Linked DNA regions of Homo sapiens. The protein of the gene in region 7 purifies or fractionates together with the protein of the main gene of each other region. This does not show direct contact. Each region holds a gene or a part of one and is shown on either strand. Other genes may lie near its edges.

Region 1 (3,500 bases), on a different chromosome or scaffold from region 7:
TTTTGTCTTTTAGGAATTTTTCTTTATAGTGAAAGCTTAGTTTATGTGCACCTTTTAATGCCCCTAGCAACTGATGCTTATTTATATGAATCTAATGAAAATGATTTCATTTTAAAATGGCAGCATTTAACAAAAAATATGCTTAGGACTGTTGTTTTTCGTATAAGCCCTTAGAGTGTGGAGGTGGTTTCTGTCAGTTTCTCGCCAAGATCTTTCCACATTAGGAAGTGATTATTAATAATTCATGAATTATGGCTTAATTCATACTACATTATATACTTACTGAAGAAAGATTTTTTTGCTTTGCTTATACTGTAGGTGTTAGTGGATAATAGTGTTGACTAGCATCCCTAGTGTGAAAGAGTTGTCAAACTTGAAATATGTTTGTAAAAATAAACACGATTTCCGTTTAATCTTAGGCCTTTAGTAGCCATAATCAAGGTAGAGGAATAGCAGCCCTTATATTTGAAGAACTTCAGTTTTCCAGGCACTTTCTCATCATCTCATTTAATCCTGTCTCACAGCTGGAGGTGGGGGCAATTCATATACATAGAAAGTAGCTTCTAATTCCATTTAGCAGTACAGAATGCTTAAAAGAACCATAATTATTGCAGGATAGAAAAAACAAATTTTTTTTTTTTTTGAGACGGAGTCTCGCTCTGTCGCCAGGCTGGAGTGCAGTGGTGCGATCTTGGCTCACTGCAACCTCTGCCTCCCAGGTTCAAGAGATTCTGCCTCAGCCTCTTGAGTAGCTGTGACTACAGGCGCATGCCACCACACCCAGCTAATTTTTGTATTTTTAGTAGAGATGGGGTTTCACCATGTTGGCCAGGATGGTCTGGATCTCTTGACCACATGATTCGCCCGCCTCGGCCTCCCAAAGGGCTGGGATTACAGACGTGTGAGCCACTGTGCCTGGCCCACAATTTTTAATTTATAACTTCTTAATATAAAAATCATTTTTATCTGATCTTACAATCTTTAGTCTTAACCCCACCCCTTTTTTTGGATACAGGGTCTTGCTCTGTCTCTGGTGTGCAGTGGCAGGATCATGGCTCACTGCAGCCTTATCCTCCTCAGGCTCAAGAAATCCTCCCACATCAGTCTCCCAAGTAGCTGGGACTATAGGCATGTGCCACCACGCCTGGTTAATTAAAGAAACTTTTTATTTTTGGAGAGATGGGGGTCTCCCTATGTGGCCCAGGCTGGTCTTGAACTCCTGGGCTCAAGTAATCCTCTTGCCTCAGCCTCCCAGAGTGCTGGGATTACAGGTGTGAGCCAGCATGCCTGGCCCTTATCCTATTTTTTGATATGAATTCTTAATTTTCTTTATTCTTATTTACTATCGTTGGACATTTATATTTTGACATATTTCACTGAAATGTAATATTTATACTAATGGCTGTAATGTCTCCTTTTTTTTTTTTTTTTTTAAAATGAGGTGGGTCTTACTCTGTTGCCCAGGCTGGAGTGCAGTGGTGGAATCACATCTCACTGCAGCCTTGACTTCCCGGGTTCAGACAATCTTTCTGAGTACCTGGGACCACAGGCATCTGCTACCACGCACAGCTAATTTTTAATTTTTATACAGACAGGGTCTCCTTGTGTTGCTCGGGCAGGTCTCAAACTCCTGGGCTCAAGGATCCTCTCTACCAGCTGAGCCTCCTAAAGTGCTGGGATTATAGGTGTGAGTCACCATATCCTGTATGTCTCTGTTTTTTAATTCATATTTTCCCCAGTTAATTTACAGGGACATTTCATTTCAACCACTGCCTTATCTTTTCTAAAACAAAATCAAGATCAAGTTCTTACTAAGCATCCATTATCAACATATCTCTGGTCGATACAGCATGGTTATTTGTATGTTGTGAACTGGATCTAGAAATTGGAAATAAGTTTTTAAAAAGTAGGATTTGAATATTTTGCATATGTAGAATTTGTATTTGGGCTAGTGGTTTGTGTAACTACATTAAAAATGCGTATAACATACCAGACTGTACCTGAATTAATTCCCTTTTAAAGCACAAATGGTTTTTAATGTCTCAGTTAATAATATCTTATGGGTGCTTAGTTTGCGTATTGTCAAGAAGGATCTGGTAACTAGGATGTGATTTCTAAGAAGATGCATGTAAGGAAGAAATAAAGTAGAAGATCTGTCCCAGGATATCTTTTATTTAAAAGTAAGGTAACTGGGACTTTTTTTTTTTCCAAAAGGATCTTGTTTTAAGAAGACAGTTATTTTGTAATTAATGTCTGGGCTTCCTATTCTTTCCTGTAAGAATTAGTCATATGATTTATATTTTCATTTTTCATTATCCTTACTAGTCTTTTAGTAGTTTTGCAATACAGAAAATAGAAATAGAGTTATCAAAGTGGTAGTAATGAGTAAGATTTGATCACACATGTCAAATGCCTGAGGCATTTTATTTATTTTTATTTTTTCTGTCGCCATGGCAGAACAGAATGCCTGAGGTATATAATAAAATTCACAAATGTATCCTTTTTCCTCCCAGATATGTCTAGTTAAGTTTCTGAACAGTATGTGTTTTAAAAGAGGAACTCTAAAGAGAACTTAATATTCAACTATTTTTTGTAGCCGCTTATTCATAATTAGCAAATGAATTCTGAAATACTTTTGTAATTATTGTTCCCTGATGGATTTATTTGCTATGTTAAGAAATAGTATAAGACTTTGGGCATCTATATACCTTTTGTGTTTACTGAATATTTTATATATCTGGATAATTTTTAAAGGTGTCTTTGAATTTAAAGTTACTATGGCAGGTGAGAAGTGAAACACTTCATAAGATGTGATTGACATTTTTCTTTCATACGCTTTGTGAGACATTTATATGAAACATTTACTTTGATGTTTAAAAAACACTGATTGTTTAAAAATAATCTATTTTAATAATCAGAATTGCTTTCATTTAAAAATATTTGTTTATTTGGCCATGATAATCATTTAGAATAGTTAATGTGAAAGTTCACCGTAGACATAGTTGTTTCTCCTTTGTTTTCTTCAGCTCTGAAATGGTTAATTTCATGGTTTCTCACTTAAAATAAAGAAGTAAGAAAAATAAACTTACAGGCTTCTTGGCAAGAGGTTAGAGCCCTACCAGGAAGAAGTAGCCTTAGACTTTCAAAGTAAAGTCTTAGTATTTGCTCTTCCTGTTCTTTTGGTAGCTAAAGTGGCATTTCCGTTACTTTGTGTTCTGTCTTAGTATGTTCCCAGTTAAACTGCTTTATACGTTTCTCTAGAGAATCAAAATTTTGGACTTGACCTTTTAGTATTTTGTATGTTCACTGTGTATGTGAATCATTTTGGGCAGTTAGATAGTTCTTTAAAAGAGAATCTTGATGAACCTAAGCCTTTGTATTAAAAATTATGTTCAGAGTTGTGATTTGTTAGATTATCAGAAAATGAAGGATTTCTCAAGTTATATTATTATCAAGATATATTATATCCCCCACGAAAGTGGTACATTTGTTAAAATTGA
Region 2 (3,500 bases), on a different chromosome or scaffold from region 7:
TGTAAGTAATTATATGTCAATAAACCTAATGATTAAAAAGAATCTATCTGTGCTACTTCTGGGTTTGGAGGAGGATGGTGGCTACCTGATCTTGAATCTCCCCACTGTCCCTCCCCTCTGTTCCAAACAATAAAAAAGGGGAGAACAAGTAAAATCTCACTTGGCCCTGCATTTCACAATACTAGGAGACAGAGAATATCATGGCCTTGACATTAGATGGAAGTTCAGAAATAAACTAAATTCCCATAAAGGTTCTATTGCTGTAAGTCTGTGGATGCCAAGAACAAGTGTAGGGGAGACTTAAAAGACTCCATGAGAACAAGCAGAGTGGTTCAGAGTATTTAGACAACGCACAAACAGAATAGTCTCCTTACCCCCAGAAAGAGAAGCTCCAATACAAAGTATAAAATACTGAACACAGGTTTGGACATACTAGACCATATCACCAGCTCTTACAAGAGTGCAGGACAAGGAATTGAAGCCTCAGAGAAGCATTGCTCCTGGGAGATAATCAGCTATATAAGAAAGATGTGGTTTCCCTTGGAGATAGGCCACTGAAGGGAAAAAAGCGTATATGAAGGAAAAGGTAAGGTTCTAATGGAAACAAAAGAGAAAGAAGATATATCAACCCCTCCTTACACCAATGCTATTCATCAATGAAACTGCCCAGAAAAAGGGAACTGTCAGAAGAGGGCACTCTCAAACTAGGAACCCTATTCGCAAAATGAACAGGAATAGAAAAAAGCAGATCACATCTATATAAAAACTACTGCAAAAGAAGCTGAAAATGCAATTCAGAGTTAAAATGCTGATACAAAATTGACAAAACTGTAACACCTTGCTTCATACTGGATTAAATATCCTTAGTCAGCATTTAGGAATAATGAAAAAAAAACAGCTTGAATCAGAAATTTCAAAATAAGAAATGGACAAAAAAGAAACAGGGAAATGAGTGTTAATTGAATCCAGAAAAGAGAAGACAAATTCAAAATTGTATTACAAATGAAAACTAAATTTGACCAAGGGACAATAAATTTGTATAAAAATTTATTAAGGGGCATTAAAAGCAGGGAGGGAAACCCCAGAGAATGAAAATGAGCTAAAAAAAAAAAAAAAGTTAAAAGGTTTAGAGAAAAAAATGATTGAATTGGAAAACAGGCAGAGGAGGTCCAACATAAGACTACTTGGAGACCTTCAAGAAAATCAGAACAGCTGACTGGAACAAATATCTAAAATTAGAATCCAAGAAAACTTTCTGGAAAGAAAAGAAACCTTGAATCTACATATTGAAAGGGCCTACCAGGTACCGGGGGTGATTGACCCAGAACAGTCCAAGAAGTATCCTAGTAAAATTATTATACTTTAAACATTGAAAAACAAAGAACGTAACTTACAAAGACATGTAAGTTAGACTGGCCATGCTTTTCACAAATAACGTACAAAGCAAGGCAACAGTAGAGTGACATTTCAGGAATCTTAATGAGTGTAAACCATAAACCAAAGAGATTATATCCAACCATTTGTCCTTCAAGAATCAATCAAGGTTAAAGAAAAACAGTTTGAATGTCCCAAAACTCAGAGAATACTGTGCACATGTGCCCTTTCTGGTGAATCTACTATAGGGAGAGCTAGAGAACCATGGGTGAGTAGGGAAACTGCTAATGGATGGATGGAGATTTTATACATGTAGAGCTAACACCAAAACTAAGATGTAGAGTTTTGGTATATTAGTCATAGTTTGATCAGAGAAGCACAACTGGGTATAATAATGAGAGAACTAATAGAGAATTCATTATAGGTAGTTGACCTTATGTTATTGTGGAGCTACATGGCTAACTAGTATATGTGAGGCTGTTGCTTTTGTGTGCTCCTGCAACCTACCTAAGTTTACTAACTTTTCACAGTCTTCAAGCAGAGGTGTGTGTGCGTATGTTCTTGTGCTTTGGTTTGGAATTAAAGTTGTAATTACTGGCAAATTATATCTCCTGATGGCAGGTCAGGCAGTTGAGAAGGAAAGATGGATATAAAGTAGCAGAGAACAAGGGCAAACCAGAAAGAACGTGCAAACATGAACTAGAACTTGCAAGGATAAACTGAAACCCATGTAAGCTTTAGTTTAGATGATGAAGTGGAGCAAAACACTCATCTGGCCCAGAAATTAGAGACGCGGAAGGAGGAGATCTACAACCCTTATATTCTTATTGCTTTCATTTGCCTTGCATATCTTTTTCTACCCCTTTACTTTTAGTCTTTCTGATTCACATTTTCTTAGATGTATCTTTTATGTAAAGAACTTATCCAAATCTTTTTCTTTTAATAATGAGTTAAGCCCATTGGTACTTATTCATATGACTGGTAATGTACAAGTATTATGTGTATTTGGTTATATTTGTTGTGTTTATCAACATGATGCACTTTCTTTGCTGTTTTATTTTCATAATCTCTTCTGATATTTATAAATGTTTACATTTATCTTTTATTAATCTTTGTACTTACAACTTTAAAAAATAATTATAGCAAAATTTGTTGAAATTTTACTCTACACTAGGTACTATGCTAAATGCCTTACACAGATTATCTCTTTTAATCCACCTGACTTATAAGGCATTTGCTGTTATTTTCCTCGTTTTGCAAATGAGAAAACAGATGAACAGGTTAAGTAACTTGCCCAAGGTAACAGGTGTGCAGTCCTTCCCACTCCTCCCCACCACCTTTACCCACATCCCCCAGGCAACCATTCCTCATTGCATCTTTTTTCCCAGCTGCTTTCAAGGCATGTGTTTGTGTGTGTGTGTGTGTGTGTGTGTGTGTGTGTGTGTGTGTGTGTGTGTGTGTTTAGCCTTTGATTTTCAGCAGTTTGTTTATGATGTGTCTAGACATGGTTTTAATGTATTTTATTTTGTGTGTGTTGAGCTTGAATTCTCTAAATTTATATATTTAATCAAATTTTGAAAGTTGGGACATTACTCAGTTATTTTTTTCTGCCCCAATCTTATTTATTCACTTTTTCTGGGATTCCAGTATACTTATTTAGATATTTTGAAACTGTTCCACAGGTCCCTGAGGTTCTGTTTATTTTTTTTCAATCTTCTTTCTCTCTTTATGTTCTTTAGATTGGATTAATTTCTGTTGAGCTGTCTTCAGGTTCATTAACCTTTTCTTTGTCATGTCCTTTTTGCCAATGAGATCATCCAGTGAACTTGTGGTATTTTTCAGTTCTAACATTTTTAGTTACTTTTTATAATTTCCATTTCTCTGTTTTTATTTCCTGTCTTTTTACTTCATTTGTGTTTTTCTTTACCTCATGGAGCATAGTTATCTAGTTGCTTGAAAGTCTTTGGTAAGTCGAACATCTGCTTTATCTTGGCATCGGTATCTGTTGCTTGTTTTTTTTGCCCCCTACCTTGATAACTGACCATATTTCCTTGTTCTTTTCTTTGAATATCAGGTAATTTTTTATTGTATCCTGGACGTTGGAATGTGACGATATGTGAACTCTG
Region 3 (3,500 bases), on a different chromosome or scaffold from region 7:
AAACTCAGGCTGTCATGGTGGGAAAAAAAAGGCAGAACCCTAGCTATTGAAATGCAGTGTGAGGTGACTGCCTTTGCTTTCAGTTTGACCTGGCTAGCAAAAAGGTGGCTTTGTTATGTAAATAAAGCCCCTTAAGTAGTCAAAATTAAAATTCTTTCCTTTTTTTTCTTTTTTTTTCCTTTTTCTGGCTGTTTTTCTCCCCCCCATTATACCACCTTACCATACTACCTTTTTTGTGTGTGTCTATGAGAATTTAGCCACTTCAGTGGCCTTGTTCCCCATAATTTGGAACTTTCCTTCGGATTTGATCAAGTCGGAAGAAGTTGGTCAAACCCAATGGGAAAAAGACTGAAACAACAAGAAAAAGAGAAACAATAAAAAAAAACAGTTAAGCAAAAAAAAAATGATTGCACAACTTATATGATTACTGAGCACTCTAATGGTAAAGACATTAAGACCAGCTGGTTGTTGATTTTAACTTTAGCCAAGACAAACCCCAATTTAGTTATCTAGGGGTTGTTGGGTCTCAGGCTGAAGACTGCTTTCTATCCTAGTGAAGCAGCCTTGTTGTCTGGGGTGATACCTGAGGTTCATTGTCTCATGCAGAGGAAATCAAGGACATGGACACACAAGGAGTGAGGTTAAAAGCAGAGGATTAATAGGCAAAAGGAAAAGAAGAACTTTCTCCTGCAGAGAGAGGGGTCCCAAATGGGTTTCTGCTTCCTCAGTGAAATGCAGGTTTTATAGATGAGCTTGAGGAGGTGGTGTTTGATTTACATAGGGCATGAAAGATTGGTTGGACCAGGTGTGCCATTTGCATAAGGGTGCAAAAAGCTGGCCACCCCCACCCTAATGTTTTATTATGCAAATGGATTATCTTCCTGGCCCACACCATGTTGCCTGTTTCTTTACACATGGTGACAAAAAGGAAGATGGAGCCTACACGTTGAACATACCTGGCCCCCAGGTAGCCATTTTGTATTGGCACAGCTGCTGGCAGTAACCTGTGCAAGCTTCCAGCTTGCTTATCTATGTCTGCAGCTCAATTTTTCAGGCTGCTCTTCATTAGACAAAAGAAGTTTCTCGGGCTGCTTTCTGTTAGAAGGGAAGCCTTGCCAAGAACTCTTACCCTCACTATCTGCCTAAATAACTTCTATCTCCTGTGTCACTAGGAGCAGGAAAAAAAAAAAAAAACCTCATCTTCCCTGTTGGAAGGGAAACTCCGTAAAGGAGTTACCTACCTTCCATCATCATGGAAGCAGGAAAAACTTGCCTGCCTTGTGTTGGAAGCAACTAAAACTCCAAAAAAAAAAAAAAAAAAAAAAAGGTTGTACAGCAAAATAAACTTTAGATCTCAACCAGAATTGGGGAGATCAGGGATTCTCTGGAATGGGTGCTTCCAGGCCTCAGCAAATTGTCCTATTGGTTTAAGCCATAAAGATAGCCCAAGGTTGAACCAAGCACTGATAGGAGATTTGTTAAAGGTCAGGGGCACCTCCACTCAGAATCCCTCTGTGGTTACCAAAATGTGAACCCTGAAAATCTGAGACAGGTCTCAGTTAATTTAGAAAGTTTATTTTGCCAAGGTTGAGGTTGCACACCCATGACACAGCCTCGGGAGGTCTTGAAGACATGTGCCCAAGGTGGTCAGAGCACAGTTTGGTTTCATACATTTTAGGGGGATATGAGACATCAATCAACATATGTAAGATGAACATTGGTTCGGTCCGGAAAGGTGGGACAACTCAAAGTGGGGAGAGGCCTTCCAGGTCATAGGTAGATAAGAGATAAATGGTTGCATTCTTTTGGGTTTCTGATTAGCCTCTCCAAAGAAGGCAATCAGATATGCATTTATCTCCATGAGCAGATGTGTGACTTTGAATAGAATGGGAGGCAGGTTTGCCCTAAGCAGTTCCCAGCTTGACTTTTTCCTTTAGCTGAGTGATTTTGGGACCCCGAGATATTTTCCTTTCAAAATAGGAATGAATATGTTGTGATCATTATCTTGATGACAAACATTTCGTCCCAAGATTTGTTCACACATGATGAATGTGCTATGTATATTTAATCTTAATGAAATCCCAAGGAAAATATTAATTTTAACACTAATAACGATAAATGGGCATTGTACTCACATAGTGTTCTTACTCCCAGGGGCACAAAGCTCTTCACAATTAATTATTTCAGTCATTCTCATAGCAGTCCCATGAGGTGGGTGGCTGAGTGTGTCCTCTTGGAAAAAAAAAAGAAAAAAGGTTACTAATTGGATTTTCTTCTGTTCCACATTCTGTGTTCTAGAACCGAGTAGCTACCTTATAAAGACCATCTGTACATCCACTGTGAAATGGAGTTTCAAAATCACAAGCTTCTTTCCCACATGAACATAAGACTAGGAGCACATATGGAAGAGTAAAGTTGAAGGGAATTTGGATGATGATTTGGCAAGATGCTGTAAGTGGATTAGGCAAGGCTGCTAAAGAGAGACAGGAAATGGCTGTGTTAGTGCTTCGGACCTCCGTTAGAAGTAGCAGTTCATGGTGTTGAAGGTTTGTTGTTGAAAATACCTTCCTGAGGCACCTCTTCATTGTGCTTATTCTTCCCACAACATTGTGCCAAGACACTGTCAAGCCTGGGCCTGTCAAAGCCTGGGATGTCAAAGGCCTGGGTCTTTCTCATCCTGCTGTAATGTATTGATAGCTGGGGGCTCTGCAGAAGGACAAGGGAAAGGTGAGATGTTTATAATTCTCAGTAGTACCTTTTAGCTAGTCTCATGCTCCCTTATCCCCCATTTCTCTACCAGGCCAGCTTTCCACATGCTTTTGCTTTCTCAGAAACAGAGCCTGTGTGTGGACACATCTTGTCCCTGGAGCAGGGAAACAGTACAGCTAAACCTCTCACTTTACCTAGTGATCAGCTCATCCCTCTCCTTCCTTTCACAATATGCCATTCAGTCTTCTCCAGTAGTCTTTCATCATTTTAGTCCTGTCTCTTTGGTTAGACTGCAAGCTCTTTGGCTGAATGTTCAGGTCAGGTGTTTTTCACTCCTTTTAATTTGCCCTACATAGCCTTCAGCACTGGGGCATTTAGGTGCACAGTAAACACTTGTGGTTTATCTATTTGCCACCCATAATTGTAAACAGACATTGCCTGTACATATTGACTGCCATTTTCGCTGTGTTTTTTTTCTTTCATTAAATAAAGGCTTAGCTGTCATCACTTTGAGTTTGTCCTCCTCAGTTTTCCCTGAAGTTACCCTGAAACGGGGAGGCAGGGGAGGGGGGAGGTCCTTTAAAATGCAGTGGATTGTGCTTAAGTTGAGCAGTGTATCCAGGGAGAGGACTAATTACGAGGTTTGAAAACCTCATCAGGTGGCTGGTTTCTGTAGCAGGACTAAAAGACTGCTCTCCTAAATTGAGAACAGCTGGGGCTGTGTGCTAGCAAGTATAAAAGAGGTGGCAGTGGTGCCCCGTGTCCGAAAGAAGTGTGTGCTCTCTGGAGCC
Region 4 (3,500 bases), on a different chromosome or scaffold from region 7:
AGGGGTCTGCGATTCCTGTCATCTCTCCCTCCTCAGCTCCCACCCTTGCCTGCCCCCTGCTCCCTCTCCGGGGGGCCTTGGTCCTCCCCTGGCCTTTCCCACACCTGGGAGGAGGCCATCTGGTGTGCTGGCTGCTGAGAGAATGACTCACAGGTCTCTCTGCCCCCAGCCACCCGGAGGAAACTGTTTGAACTTGCCCGAGCCTTCTCAGAGAAGACCAAAATGAGGAAGTCAAAGAGGAAACACTTGTTGAAGCATCAGTCGTATCCTTTCCAGCCTGGCACTGGTGGGGGTGGTGGAAGCCAAGGGCCATGGAGCAAGACCCCTGTTGGACTCCCTGCAGCTGTGCCCTCCCCTGGGAGTGGAACCCGGCTCTGTGGCCTTCCCTTCCTCCTCCCCTCTCCTCCATGAGCTTGGCCACCAGTCCACTGCCCGTCTCTCGTTGCCAACCAGGGACCAGGCCTAGGGAGCAGGGCAGCAGCTCCTGTCTCCCTTCTGTAGGCCCAGAAGTTGTCCTATTAACTTTTTTTTTGGTCTGAGGTTATGTACTTCTTGGGAGAAAAAGTGGTTCTTCCATCAATATCAAACCTTCCCTTCATTTCTCTAGTTGAACTGGTGCACGAGTCCTCCTCACTCCAAGCATGTTGGCCCTCCCTTCCTCGAGTAGAAATACGGCTTTCCACCTTTTTATCAGAACTCCTATTCATGCTTCTCAAACAGGGCCTAGGATAGCAGAGGCTCAGCAGCCAGAGGGAAACAGGGAGGAAGCTGTTTCTCCATCCCCAGAGATGTAAGCTGGGCGAGAGTGTCAGGGCCTGGCCATACCACTGACCTCAGGAAAATGAGCCTGGGGGACAGTACTAAGGGTGTGGGGGGTCAGGTGGGTGTGTCAGGTACCTCCAGAGCTTTGAGGGGTGGGGCAGAGAGTCAGTGGGACTGGGAGGACTAGGGCAGTGTCCCCTCATCCCTGGGACGGTTTTCCTGAATGGCCTGGCAGGCTGGGGGCTGCCGCGTCAACAGCCAACCTCCTGGATGATGTGGAGGGCCACGCGTGTGGTGAGGCTGGAGGGGAGTCGTAAGCTCCAACTTCTCTATGATCGGTGATCTCCCAGCGGAGTTCCTGGGTGTTTCATGGGAGCACCCGCCCTGTCCCCTGGAGGAACACACTGAGGGTTGGTGGGCAGGTGACCCAAAGATATGGATCCCCCTGACTTGGTCGACATTGCTTCCCCCTTTCTGCAACCCCTGAAAAGGGGCCCTAGCCCTACTTCCACCTAGATGTGTACCTGTAGCATGAAGTGCCAGGTACTGTTTCTGGGGAATATTCTTTTGGGTGTGAGGTGGCAGACAGGCCTGCCCCCATGGGGGACCCTCGGCCTGAGAACCAAGCACTGGGCAGCTTCAGTCTGTGGGCCCAGAGGCTTCTCAACTTTCACCCAGTCCCTTCCAAAGGCCACGTGGGCCAGAAGACTCTGCCTCAGACCCTCCTGGGCCCGCAGCTGAACCCTGATCCTCATGCCACATTCGAGGGTCAGGAGGCATCCAGAAACAAGGACTGGAAGGGCCTCAGAGGTCATCTAGATAGTCCAGCTTTTCCATCCCATTTTATAGATGAGGAAATTTGAGGCCCAAAGACGAGGGGAGAACTTGTCCAAGGTCTCAGAGCTCAGTGGTGGACCCTGGCCAGCACCTGAGTGTCCTGCTGCCTCTCTCCCTGGACCCATGCATCGTCTACCTGGGGGGATCTGCATGGGTCCCAAATGAAGGGGGCAGAGAGAGTCGGGTCAGCTCTCTTGCCCAGTCTAGGGGCCGTGCCTGAGCGAGGCCCTGCAGGGTAGAGGATGAGGCAGCTTCCCTCTCCTTTTCAGATGAAGACTTCCGGGGCAGGCGTCAGGAGGCACCCAAGGTGGAGGAAGGCCTGCGAGAAGGACAGTAAGAGGTAAGGCCTGGAGCCATAGCAACCCAGGGACTGCCCAAGGCCAGGGCCCCCCACACTATGCACCCCACATGTCCTCCCAGGTGTCCAGAGGCGCTGGGCTCAGGCAACTGGGTAGCACAGGCCCCACGTGTCTTCCCTCATAGTTGCGGCAGGGACACGGGCGTGGGAACTAGTTCATTGCATGTCTTTTTTGGTTATTTATTCATTTGACAAAAGATGAGCACACCTGCCTATGACAGATGCTGAGAACAGGAAAACAAAATCAGCTTTGACCTTGAAGAGTTTACAGTCCAGTTGAGAAGACAGTCCAGGACACACGTAGCACACTGAGAGGATGATTTAAGAAAAACTGGCTGGGCACGGTGTCCCATGCCTGTAATCCCAGCACTTTGGGAGGCCAAGGTGGGTGGATCAGCTGAGGTCAGGAGTTCGAGACCAGCCTGGCCAACATGGTGAAACCCTGTCTCTGCTAAAAATACAAAAATTAGCCTGGCGTGGTGGCAAGCGCCTGTAATCCCAGCTACTTGGGAGGCTGAGGCAGGAGAATCACTTGAATCTGGGAGGCGGAGGTGGCAGTGAGCTGAGATCGCGCCATTGCACACCAGCCTGGGCGACAAGAGTGAAACTTCATCTCAAAAAAAAAAAAAAAAGAAAAAGAAAAACTGAGGTGGTCTCAACCCGGCTGTGCACACACACAACTCTCTCCAGCCCCCTGCTTGGGTTGGGTGGGCTGGGATCTGCCACACCAGGATGAGGAAACCCTCCTGAGGCAGCGGTTTCTGGCTGAAGCCCCAGGGCTCCAAGCCATTTCTCCTCCTCGCTTCCTGTGCACCCTCTTGGGGAGAAAAAGAAAATACCAAGGCCTCCTCCAGGAGTTGGCCAAGACAGCTGTCCCTTTTCCAGCCCCCGTTTACCATGGGAGAGGGGAAGCTGCCCGGCCTTCCCCAGCCACTTGTTTGGTCCCAGTGGGCAGCATCTACAAGGCTTTCTTGAGTTGATGGTGTGGCAGGTATGGCCCTGTGTCAGACGATGGAGAAATACTCACTTGCCTCAGGATAGTCACAATGGAGGGAAACCGGGAACAAGTAAATACAAGTGCCCTCTCCTCTCTGCCTGGGCAGCTGGCCCCCACACCCACTCCACCTGACTCCCTACCACATCTCCCACCAGGCACTGCAGCCCCTTCTATTCCCCTCAGGCTTTCCTCAAACACAAAGCCGCGGCCCACTTCCCACTGTCCTGGAATGCCCAGATAGAGCCTGCCGGGGAATCGCCTCCACTGTCACCCCACGCTGCTACTATCTCCACGCCCTTCTCCTTCCTACTGGTCCCCAGGGAGAACGGGTCCTGTCCAAACCACCCCTACATCAGAAACTTGCTCATCATTCATTCATTCATTCATTCATTCATTCATTTTGAGACAGAGTCTCGCTCTGTTGCCCAGGCTGGAGTGCAGTGGCACAATCTTGGCTCATTGCAACCTTCACCTCTCAGGTTCAAGCGATTCTCCTGCCTCAGCCTCCCGAGTAGCTGGGATTATAGGCACCCACTATCTTGCCTG
Region 5 (3,500 bases), on a different chromosome or scaffold from region 7:
GGAGATAAGCGATTATCTGCCACCGAGGTAAAGTTAGTGATCAGATTCTTTTCCTTCTGTACTTCTAGACATATCTACCAGTGTTCATTGAACTCCTTTCTGTTAAAGGGCATCGATTCATTTGTATATTCATGTGATATTCGTAAAAGTGATTTGTATATTCATGTGATTTGAAATCCTCGAAGTGTTATATAAATATTAGCTGTTGTTACTTATTCTGCATCTTTAATATCTTTAATATTTTGTAAATGCCTCAAGAGTGGAGTCTGTATCTTCTCCTCTCCTACACATTATCTAAAATATTATTGAGTGCTCAATAAATATTACAAAATGGCTAAGTAGTACGCAAGTGCCCGTGAAGCACTTTTATACATACGCTTATTTTTCAGTAATAGAGTAATTTAGAAAAACATTGTTATACATATGCGTAAATGTTAAGGAATCAACTGTACATTTTATTTTAATAGTTGATCCACAGGAAATGCATTTATGAGTAGCTATAGTTTTTATAACAATGTTTGTTTTCCTCAGACTCTTAGATTGTGTTCTGTTCTGTTCTGTTCAGTTAATTGGATACAAGTTTGGTTACTTGCAAGCTAACAGGCCTCACACATTAGAACTTCCTATAGTGGTTATAAATCATGCTTTGATAACTGATTTATTATCTCACATGTAGTCTATTAGAGTCCCCAAAATCTAACACTAATGTATCATTAAATGGAGCTTCTTGGCCTCAGGGATCTAGAAAGGAGTGGTAGGAAAAGTATCAGGTGCTCTTCTTTTTTTGAGGGAAGTTACTTTCTGTAGTTACTAAGTTAACATTATAATACTGTGAAATTGCAGTTAATAGGCCAGTCACCCCATCAAAGAAACTCACATTTTTTTCTATGTATGACTCCAGGAAAAAAACCTTTCTCCAATTCTCCTCAAGTCGTTGAATTTTAATAGGTAGCTAAGGTATTTGAATTTATTTTTCACAAAATACTCTATATAGCAGTATATTAAAAAGTGGGATTCTTTATCTTTAAAAATCCTTCTAATATAGAGCATTTTGAAAAGAAGAAGAGTTAGTAGGCAGAGAAGGCCAGTGTCAATAAAAGAAAATAACCCATAGGAAGGCACATGAATAGTTTACCGTGCTTCAGTGGGAGAGAGGGGATACTAAACACATTGCTTTAGTTGCATTTTAATTCATCCTCTTCAACTCCTAAGTCCTCGCAAATGGACCATTGTTTCAGAAATTACTCACCCTAAGTATATTTTCTGTTAAATTAAACAGACTCTGCTTTATCTCTCTTCTAAGGCTAATTAAACTCATTAATAAAACATTACATAAAGAACTTCATTATCCTTTTGTTGTCACTTAAGCATAAGTAGGATGCTAATATCATTCTAAAAGGAGCCCAAGGATTTATTCTGTGCCTTTTAATTAGATGCATATCTTTGGAATTTTGCTAAATTTTTAAGATGAGAGGTGGGTAGAAAGAGAAGGGAATACAGAAAAGATTATATTCAACAGAATGAAATGCACACATCTTGCCTTTGGCCTTTCCTTGTCTTATATTACAGCCTCCTTTCCTAAGTACACCTCCAAGAAATTTATTTTTTAGAGTGATAAGTGTTCCAAATTATCTTACATAGCTTCCTATTTTCACTTGGTTTGGCAAAGATTTTACCATCTATGATCAGGTGATCTTACTTCCCATTTAGATGACATTGTGGGGTTCAGGGATCACACCTCATTCTTTTTCTTTGGCTGCTGCCATTGATTGATTTAGCATTTGTCACTGAGAGATTAAAAACATCTTTTTATCAAGATAAACAGGAAAGTGTGGAGCTCTATGAATATTTGTTGAATGAATGAAATGCATGCCTAATTTCTGCCAGTTTCTAAACAATCTGTGCATATGTCCAAAAGTAAACAAGGACAGACTCTGAAAACCATACCTCAAGAACTTAGGAGCAAGCCACAATCTCCTGAAATGTGTTTTGTGGAGGTTCCTGATTTTTGAGATTTGGAAAGCTATTTCCTAAGTAGCAACAGTAAAATGGAGACATAGGAAAATAAACCAGGCTCCATATTTCAGAATCATAGGTTTTCTGAATAAACGTCATCAGCTACTGTGGGAAAGGAAGCCCTCAGAGAGAACTAATCCAATTATTAAAGCCGAAGCTTTCTTCCAAAAATCACACAGAGCAGTTCTTTTTAACTACTACAGTTGTTTAGCATTTTTATATATGTGATGCAGCTTCCTCAGCCTAAAACAGAGAAATAAAACAGGCACCCGTATTAGTTCATTCTTGTGTTGCTATAAAGAAATGCCCGAGGGTCGATAATTTATAAAGAAAAGAGGTTTAGTTGGCTTACAGTTCTGCAGGCTGTACACAAAGCATGTGACCAGCAACTGCTACTGGCAAGGGCCTCAGGGTTGAAGGTGAAGGGAGTGCCTCCTGTCACATGGTGACAGCCAGAGCAAGAAAGCAACGAGGTTGGGGGAGAGCAACGGAGGAGGTGCCATGCACTTTTTTTTGTTTTTTTAAGACGGAGTCTTGTTCTCTTGCCAGGCTGGAGTGCAGTGGCGCGATCTTGGCTCACTGCAACCTCTGCCTCCCGGGTTCAAGTGATTCTCCTGCCTCAGCCTCCCTTATAGCTAGGACTATAGGTGTGTGCCACCACGCCCAGCTAATTTTTGTATTTTTAGTAGAGATGGGGTTTCACCATGTTGGCCAGGATGGTCTCGATCTCTTGATCTTGTGATCCACCTGCCTCAGCCTCCCAAAGTGCTGGGATTACAGGTGTGAGCCACCACGCCTGGCTGATGCCATGTACTTTCAAACAACCAGATCTCACATGAACGCATAGCAAGAACTGCATAGACCCTTCTTGAGGTATCCACCCCCAAAACCCAAACACTTTCCACCAGGCCCCACCTCCAGCATTGGGGATTACATTTCAACATGAGATTTGGAGGGGACATACATCCAAACTGTGTATCAGTACCTGACAAGATTTCAGCTTAAAACAGAGAGAAGAAAACACAGAGAAGCCCATAAGTGTTAGCTCCATGAATTTTCACAATGTGAACACACCCGTATAACCAGCTTCCAGTTCAAGAAACAGAACTTTACCAGCACCCCAGAAAGCCCCACCCCGACCCCAAGAATAACCTCTTCCTAATTTTAAATACCATGGATTAGTTTTGCATTTTTTGAACTTACATAAGTGGAATTGACCTTTGTATCTGGCAACTTATATTCAATATGATATTTGTGAGAATCACAGGATGTTGTTTTATTACATAGCATTCTCCTTATCTACATTGATAACACTTCTCTTGAGTTAAACAGTGCACTGTATCTTTTTAGCCTTCTGACGAAGACACTGTTAGCCTCAATGTGCCAATGTCAAACATCATGGAAGAAGAACAGATCATCAAGGAGGACTCGTGCCATCGCCTTAGCCCCGTTAAAGGTCTGAGAATAAAAATGTGGAGAAAGTG
Region 6 (3,500 bases), on a different chromosome or scaffold from region 7:
GCCATTTAAAATATAAAACAGCACTTAGAATTTAAATAACTTCTTATACTTTTGAAATACACATTGTCTACGGCCTCATTAGGATACAACAATCCTGATTTTCTGAGCAATTGGAGGTAAGTGGCAGTGCCATTTTGACAGGAAAAAAGCATGCTTTGAGAACAAGAAGTCAGAGAATTCTTGACTTGGAAATGCCTTCTTCCACATAGTTCAGAAAACCTTTTCATACATTTTGATGATAGCTGCTTGAACTTGAGGTGACCATCTCCAGTGACAAAGTGTTTACCTTTAGAACTGCCCGCTGCTTTGACAGTTTTCACTGTCAGGAGATTATCTTTGGAAACAAACCAGCTTTTCTGGGGTCTGGTTCTAGAGCACGCATCCTCAGTGGGTGTAAACATTGACTTGGGGGCTTACTCTTTATGAATAAAGCATAGCTATACATATGTATATGCATTATATATGTATATCTGTGGTATTAAAATTTCATTGGGGGAGGTGATTAGAAAAATGTCCAGAAAGACTTCTAGGGAGGGTGGGTGAAAATGAAAAAAATAAAAAAGGTGATAAACACTGTTCTAGAGCAAGAGGGAATAGGCTACTGGTCCTCTGTGTAGCACATTCAGTGTTTACTGACAGCTCTCCTTTCCTGTCTCCCTTTGGTCTTTCCATTGCTAGGCTAAATAGCATAGCCACATAATAGCTGGCCACCCTCCCAAATAATGCCACATAAAATTGTTAAGTGAATACTTATCATCTTGATATAAGAAGGTAAATGTTGTAAGAAACCAAGTATGTGCAGTTTGTCATATCCACTCAGAAATCCAAATCAGTTGTCTATGATTTTGTTGTGTTGCAGATTTTCTGGTCTGACTCTGGAGAGCTAGTCTGTATTGCTACTGAGGAATCATTTTTTATCCTTAAGTATCTGTCAGAAAAAGTCTTGGCTGCACAGGAAACACATGAGGGAGTTACTGAAGATGGCATTGAAGATGCCTTTGAGGTAATTGCATCAGCACAACTTTCGCTTTCAGCTTTGTTTTTAAATGATTTATATTCTTACAACAGACTTTACTGATTTTAACATTTCGTTATAAATTAGGTGTAGGGAGACAGCATTTAAGGATTTCTGGTGAAATGTGAAAAATTAAAATCGTAACTCATAGATCAAAATTTAAAATAAATATGTTTAAAAGAAATTTGTACTTTGATTTTAAGAATTCTTTAGACTTACTTTGATATCTTTCAGTAAAGAAATTATAGTTGTTTTGGTCCTAAGACTATTTAGTCAGTGATTTAAATAAGCTCCCAAATGGTAAATCATTTATTGTGCAGATGTCCTAGATTTTGTGAAATACTTAATATTTCATTGTCATGTTATGAAGGGTCTAAGTTTAGATCAGTATTCTTTTATATCATGATTTTGACCCAACAATGAGATTTCACATTACAAATACTAATCTAGGAATCTGTTCTGTGTTTTGTTTTGTTTTTTTTTCTGTTTTGAGCCTAAGGGTTATATTGAGTAGGAATCTGTTCTTAAATGAAGAAAGAAATTCCAGCGGGGTGCAGTGGCTCACACCTATAATCCCAGCACTTTGGGAGGCCGAGGTGGGCAGATCACTTGAGGTCAGGAGTCTAAGACCAGCCTGGCCAGCATGGTGAAACCCTGTCTCTACGAAAAACATAAGAATTAGCCAGGCATGGTGGCGGGCGCCTGTAATCCCAGATACTTGGGAGGCTGAGGCAGGAGAATCACTTGAATCCGGGAGGTAGAAGTTGGCAGTGAGCAGAGGTTACGCCACTGTACTACAGCCTGGGCAACAGAGACTTCATCTCAAAAAAAAAAAAAAATTCCAAGGAAAATTTTTTTTTTCTAGAAATAGGAAGGATTTTACTTTGCATTCCTTATTCTGCCATATCACCCTCAGATATATTCAGCTTTTTATTGAGAGATTTCTGATGTTGGATAAAGTAATTGTCTTTATTTTTCTTTCTGCAGGTTCTTGGTGAGATTCAGGAAATTGTGAAAACAGGGCTTTGGGTAGGCGATTGCTTCATTTACACAAGTTCTGTGAACAGATTAAATTATTATGTTGGAGGAGAAATAGTCACCATTGCCCACTTGGACAGGTACCTGAGTATCATTTTGCATTTGTCCTAAATTTTAAAGTGTGTTTAGAAAAATCTGTTGCTGGCTTGTAGCAATGATAGGCTGATTTTTCAGTGTTATAGTTTTAGTAGGTTGCCTATTGTTAACCAGAATTGTGTCAATCAAATGGGAAGGTTTTGAGCAAGAGGGAGATTGGCGGGGTGTGTGTTTGTGTAATTGCAGATTTGAATTTCTAACTTGGTTTCTGTTTCTTTTATAGGACGATGTATCTCCTAGGCTACATTCCTAAAGACAACAGGCTTTATCTGGGGGATAAAGAATTGAACATCATTAGCTATTCCCTGCTGGTTTCAGTCCTGGAATACCAGACAGCTGTCATGCGGAGGGACTTTAGCATGGCTGATAAGGTCCTTCCTACCATTCCAAAAGAACAGAGGACCAGAGTTGCACACTTTTTGGAAAAGCAGGTAAGAGGTTTTGTTTTTTTCTTTTTGTTTTTTAAAACTTGCAATTTGAAAGCAAATTATTATGGAGTTGAAAAACTTTATTTCTTAATTGCCAACTGATTTCCTGTGGCAATAGAATTTCTCCTGTGAGTTTAAGGCACTTATTACAGCACATGATACACCCTTCTTACACTCTTCCTTCTCCTTTCTCAGTGCCCCCTTTAAATGTTGGAGGTGATTTTCAGTCTTCCTTTTCTGTGCACTTATTTTCCAGTCTCCTGATATTTTCATTTCTACACTGCATTTTTAGCTTTATCCCATCTGCTTTTTAAAAAAAAATGATTAAAATACATATAAAATGTACCATGACATGACTTTTTCTTATGTAATGTTTTTTAAGCAAAGTTACATATGTGCAAAGCATAAAGTAAGTTTTGCAAAGCTTAAGAAAAAAATCAGCCCTCCTTTTTGCTTTCTACTCCCTAGAGGTAATTATTTTATCTAATTCTTTTGGTATTTATTTCCATATCTCTAAATAACTTGAGGTATAGCAGTTTCTTCATTTCTTAGCTTTAGGCATTTCTTGTGACTTCCCCCTCTGTAGAAGATGAGAATTTCGCCTTCTTTCATTCCCCTGCGTCTACCACATACATGCCACTTTCCTATCCTTTATCTCTCAGAATAGTTCTAATTTTGATTGATCACTACTCAAATGTTTACATTATTATGGCTATGTAATCACTGCTCACAGGTGAACATGTAGCATATTATCTAGCTTTCCTTTCCTGCAATTGTTTGTTTTCCCTAGTTTATAATTGTCTTTTTCCCCCCTTTGCTTAATTTTCTATGTACCTGTGGTTAATTCTCCCTGGACTTTGCTGGTTCTCCAGAGTTCCTGAAGATCTCCTTTCAGTTTGCTTAGTCTCCTTCAGACTGCACTG
Region 7 (3,500 bases):
TAAAACGTACTGTAGTGTCTACCACGGACCAGGCACTATTCTAAGTTCTAGGGATACAGTGATTAAATTAAGACCAAGCCCCTGTACTGACATTTTATTGTTGTTTTGAATTAAGTTAATTATAGACTCTTCATACTAGGATGTAATCAACAGGGCTGACCCTAAAGTTGGGAAATAGGCAGTTGTCAAAATTGTGCAATTTAAAGGCTACTGCATGACTTACTTGCTCTGGAATATTTCTGACCTATCTGTCGAAGACTCCCAGACTATTGGGTTATGGCGCTGTTACCAACCTGCTTTGATAAATATAAGTATGTTCCATCATTTATCACACTTTTAGCAAAGAAAACTGAGAGAAAATAAATGGGAACTAGAATTGGACACGGTGATGCTTACCTGTAGTCCTAGCTACTCAGGCGGCTGAGGCAGGAGGAATGCTTGAGCCCAGGTGTTTGAGGCCAGCCTAGGCAACATAGCCAGATTCTGTCTCAAAAAAAAAAAACAACAAGCAAGCAAAAAACAAATGGGACTAGGACTGATATGTTGGTGTTGTAAGAGAAGAGGTTAGCAAAGTATAATTTTAATAGCAGCTATTGTTTTTTCTTTTTTTTTGAGACGGAGTCTCGCTCTGTCACCCAGGCTGGAGTGCAGTGGTGCAATCTTGGCTCACTGCAACTTCCGCCTCTCGGGTTCAAGCGATTCCCCTGCCTCAGCCTCCTGAGTAGCCGGGATTACAGGTGCTCACGACCATGCCTGGCTAATTTTTGTATTTGTAGTAGAGGTGGGGTTTCACCATGTTGGCCAGGCTGGTCTCGAACTTCTGACTTCAGGTGATCTGCCCGCCTTCGCCTCCCAAACTGCTGAGATTACAGGCATGAGCCACTGTGCCTGGCCAATAGCAGCTATTGTTTATTGAGCTTTTACTACCATGTCAGATATTATGCCAAGTGAGTATTTTTGTATACATTAGCTCAATCACTGTGTCACCTCAGTGGTGCTGGTGTTATGACCTTCATTTTACAGATTAGGAAACTGAGGGGCAGAGATGTTAAATTTGCTCAAGCTTATTTGGTGGTGCTGGAATTTGGGTCTCTGCTAGTACTAAGCAGGTAGTAGATACTAATGTGGAAAGAGTACTTATGTGTGTTGTGTGTGTATATATATATATATATACACATATATATACACACCATATATAGTGTGTATATATGTGTATATATGTATACACACATATATAGTGTGTATATATGTATACACACATATATAGTGTGTATATATGTATACACACATATATAGTGTGTATATATGTGTATATATGTATACACACATATATAGTGTGTATATATATGTATACGCAATATGTATTGTGTATATATGTGTATATATGTATATACAAGAGTACTTATGTGTGTTGTGTGTGTGTATGTATATACACACATATATACACACATATATTGTGTATATATGTATATAGACATATATACATATACATATATAGACATACATACATATGTGTGTGTATATATGTATATAGACATATACACAATATATGTGTGTGTATGTATACACACACATATACATATAGAACATATATACATATACATATAGAACATCAGAAGTCTGTGTGTGTGTGTGTATATATATGTATACACATATATATACACACACACACATAGAGACAGACTTCTGATGTTCTGCTAGGATGTGTGACACATCACAGAGGTGGGCGACCTTGGTGTGGGAGTGATGGGTGTGGGGAGTCAGGATAGCTTGTTGGGTGAGGGGTGGGAATTGGGGTTGGAAGGAGATGGGAGGGTATTACTTGCCTAACTACTTGGTCGTCAGGCTTAATCCTCTCTCTGACAGCCCTGGGGTTCCAGAGTTGCGTTTAAGCACAGTGCTTTCTTGTCCAGCTCCTGGGTAAGAGGATAGGCAGACCTGAGGCAATCCTGGTTTTGTCACTCATTAACTTGGTCAAATTATTTCATTTCTCTAGGCTTCAGTTTTCTCATCTATAAAATGGAAGTAACAATATTACCTACCTGGTGTGGTTCTTATGAGGATTGAATTAGATAATAATACATGTAAAACACAGATCACACTGGCTAGCACATAGTGTACATTCATTATTATTGTTGTTACTGTGTTTTTTTTTGTCATGTTTAATGTGGAATTTTCATCGAAAAGCAAGAAGAGCAATATATTAGTGATTTGGTTGGAATCTTGAAGTTGGCTTTTTTTTTTTTTTTTTTTTTTTGAGATGGAGTCTCGTTCTGTTGCCCAGGCTGGAGTGCAGTAGCGCGATCTTGGCTCACCACACCTTCTGCCTCCCAGGTTCAAGCAATTCTCCTGCCTCAGCTTCCCGAGTAGCTGGGACTACAGGCACGTGCCACCATGCCCAGCCAATTTTTGTATTTTTAGTAGACACGGGGTTTCACTATGTTGGCAAGCTTCCCTTTTGATTTATGTGCAAACTGGAATTAGAGAACTACTAGCTTAAACTTTTTCTTTATCTTTTGGTTAGGGAGGGCTTCAACAAGATTAACGACAATTTGCTTGGGTTAACCAGGCAGTATGTGGTAGAGGGAAGTGAAATATGTTACCAGAATCTCTTCATTGACTTTTTTTTAAAGCTTATTTGGGGCTTATAGCATTGTATGGAGAAGACAATGCAGTGTTAAATTTCGCACCTAAATTAGATTGTAATGACTGTTTCAGCTTTTTGTTTGTTTGTTTGTTTGAGATGGAGTCTCGCTCTGTCACCCAGGCTGGAGTGCAGTGTTGCCATCTCAGCTCACTGCAAGCTCCGCCTCCTGGGTTCACGCCATTCTCCTGCCTCAGCCTCCCAAGTAGCTGGGACTACAGGCTCCCGCCACCACGCCCAGCTAATTTTTCTTATTTAGTAGAGATGGGGTTTCACTGTGTTAGCCAGGATGGTCTTGCTCTCCTGACCTCGTGATCTGCCCGACTCGGCCTCCCAGAGTGTTGGGATTACAGGCGTGAGCCACCGCGCCTGGCCTGTTTCAGCTTTTTAACTAGCTTCATTCGGAGGTGATTAGTTAATATTAGTTAAAATTGTTAATTTTTAACGATTATACAAATAGTAAAAATGTATAAATACATGTTTGTATAGATCTTTTTTTTTTTTTGAGATGTAGTCTCACCCTGTTGCCCACGCTGGAGTGCAGTGGCATGATCTCAGCTCACTGCAATCTCCCCCTCCCAGGTTCAAGCGATTCTAATGTCTCAGCCTCCTGAGTAGCTGGGATCACAGGCATGTGCCACCATGCCCGGCTAATTTTTATATTTTTAGTGGAGACGGGGTTTCACCATGTTGGCCAGGCTGGTCTCGAACTCCTGACCTCAGCTGAGCCACCCGCCTCAGTCTCCCAAAGTGCTGGGATTACAGGAGTGAGCCACAGCGCCCGGCCGTTTCTATAGATCCGGTCATTTCTATAGATCTTAAAAACTTTCAAAAACTTAGATTTCTTTAGATAATG

Evidence for each region.
Region 1: the proteins of MYO6 (region 7) and PICALM purify together in Homo sapiens (affinity purification with mass spectrometry; 2 studies listed by BioGRID and IntAct, with this or other methods). This does not show direct contact.
Region 2: the proteins of MYO6 (region 7) and NHLRC2 fractionate together in Homo sapiens (co-fractionation; one large-scale study listed by BioGRID). This does not show direct contact.
Region 3: the proteins of MYO6 (region 7) and SGMS2 purify together in Homo sapiens (co-immunoprecipitation; one large-scale study listed by IntAct). This does not show direct contact.
Region 4: the proteins of MYO6 (region 7) and CUEDC1 purify together in Homo sapiens (co-immunoprecipitation; 3 studies listed by BioGRID and IntAct, with this or other methods). This does not show direct contact.
Region 5: the proteins of MYO6 (region 7) and LRCH1 purify together in Homo sapiens (affinity purification with mass spectrometry; one large-scale study listed by BioGRID and IntAct). This does not show direct contact.
Region 6: the proteins of MYO6 (region 7) and COPB2 purify together in Homo sapiens (affinity purification with mass spectrometry, with the first as the bait; one study listed by BioGRID). This does not show direct contact.

The regions. Positions count from the first base shown.
Region 1 is NC_000011.10:86,062,585-86,066,084, reverse strand, and holds part of PICALM (phosphatidylinositol-binding clathrin assembly protein), read left to right. Parts: intron 1-2,208; exon of another isoform or gene 2,209-3,500. UniProt on the Homo sapiens protein: Cytoplasmic adapter protein that plays a critical role in clathrin-mediated endocytosis which is important in processes such as internalization of cell receptors, synaptic transmission or removal of apoptotic cells.
Region 2 is NC_000010.11:113,871,661-113,875,160, forward strand, and holds part of NHLRC2 (NHL repeat-containing protein 2), read left to right. Parts: intron 1-3,500. UniProt on the Homo sapiens protein: Required for normal embryonic development.
Region 3 is NC_000004.12:107,890,932-107,894,431, forward strand, and holds part of SGMS2 (phosphatidylcholine:ceramide cholinephosphotransferase 2), read left to right. Parts: intron 1-2,135; exon of another isoform or gene 2,136-2,727; intron 2,728-3,500. UniProt on the Homo sapiens protein: Sphingomyelin synthase that primarily contributes to sphingomyelin synthesis and homeostasis at the plasma membrane.
Region 4 is NC_000017.11:57,864,913-57,868,412, reverse strand, and holds part of CUEDC1 (CUE domain-containing protein 1), read left to right. Parts: intron 1-169; coding exon 170-263; intron 264-720; exon of another isoform or gene 721-790; intron 791-997; coding exon 998-1,056; exon of another isoform or gene 1,057-1,075; intron 1,076-1,868; coding exon 1,869-1,936; 3' UTR 1,937-1,939; intron 1,940-3,500.
Region 5 is NC_000013.11:46,689,170-46,692,669, forward strand, and holds part of LRCH1 (leucine-rich repeat and calponin homology domain-containing protein 1), read left to right. Parts: coding exon 1-27; intron 28-3,366; coding exon 3,367-3,472; intron 3,473-3,500. UniProt on the Homo sapiens protein: Acts as a negative regulator of GTPase CDC42 by sequestering CDC42-guanine exchange factor DOCK8. Probably by preventing CDC42 activation, negatively regulates CD4(+) T-cell migration.
Region 6 is NC_000003.12:139,365,648-139,369,147, reverse strand, and holds part of COPB2 (coatomer subunit beta'), read left to right. Parts: intron 1-859; coding exon 860-1,003; intron 1,004-2,002; coding exon 2,003-2,133; intron 2,134-2,372; coding exon 2,373-2,580; intron 2,581-3,500. UniProt on the Homo sapiens protein: The coatomer is a cytosolic protein complex that binds to dilysine motifs and reversibly associates with Golgi non-clathrin-coated vesicles, which further mediate biosynthetic protein transport from the ER, via the Golgi up to the trans Golgi network.
Region 7 is NC_000006.12:75,755,739-75,759,238, forward strand, and holds part of MYO6 (unconventional myosin-VI), read left to right. Parts: intron 1-3,500. UniProt on the Homo sapiens protein: Myosins are actin-based motor molecules with ATPase activity. Unconventional myosins serve in intracellular movements. Myosin 6 is a reverse-direction motor protein that moves towards the minus-end of actin filaments.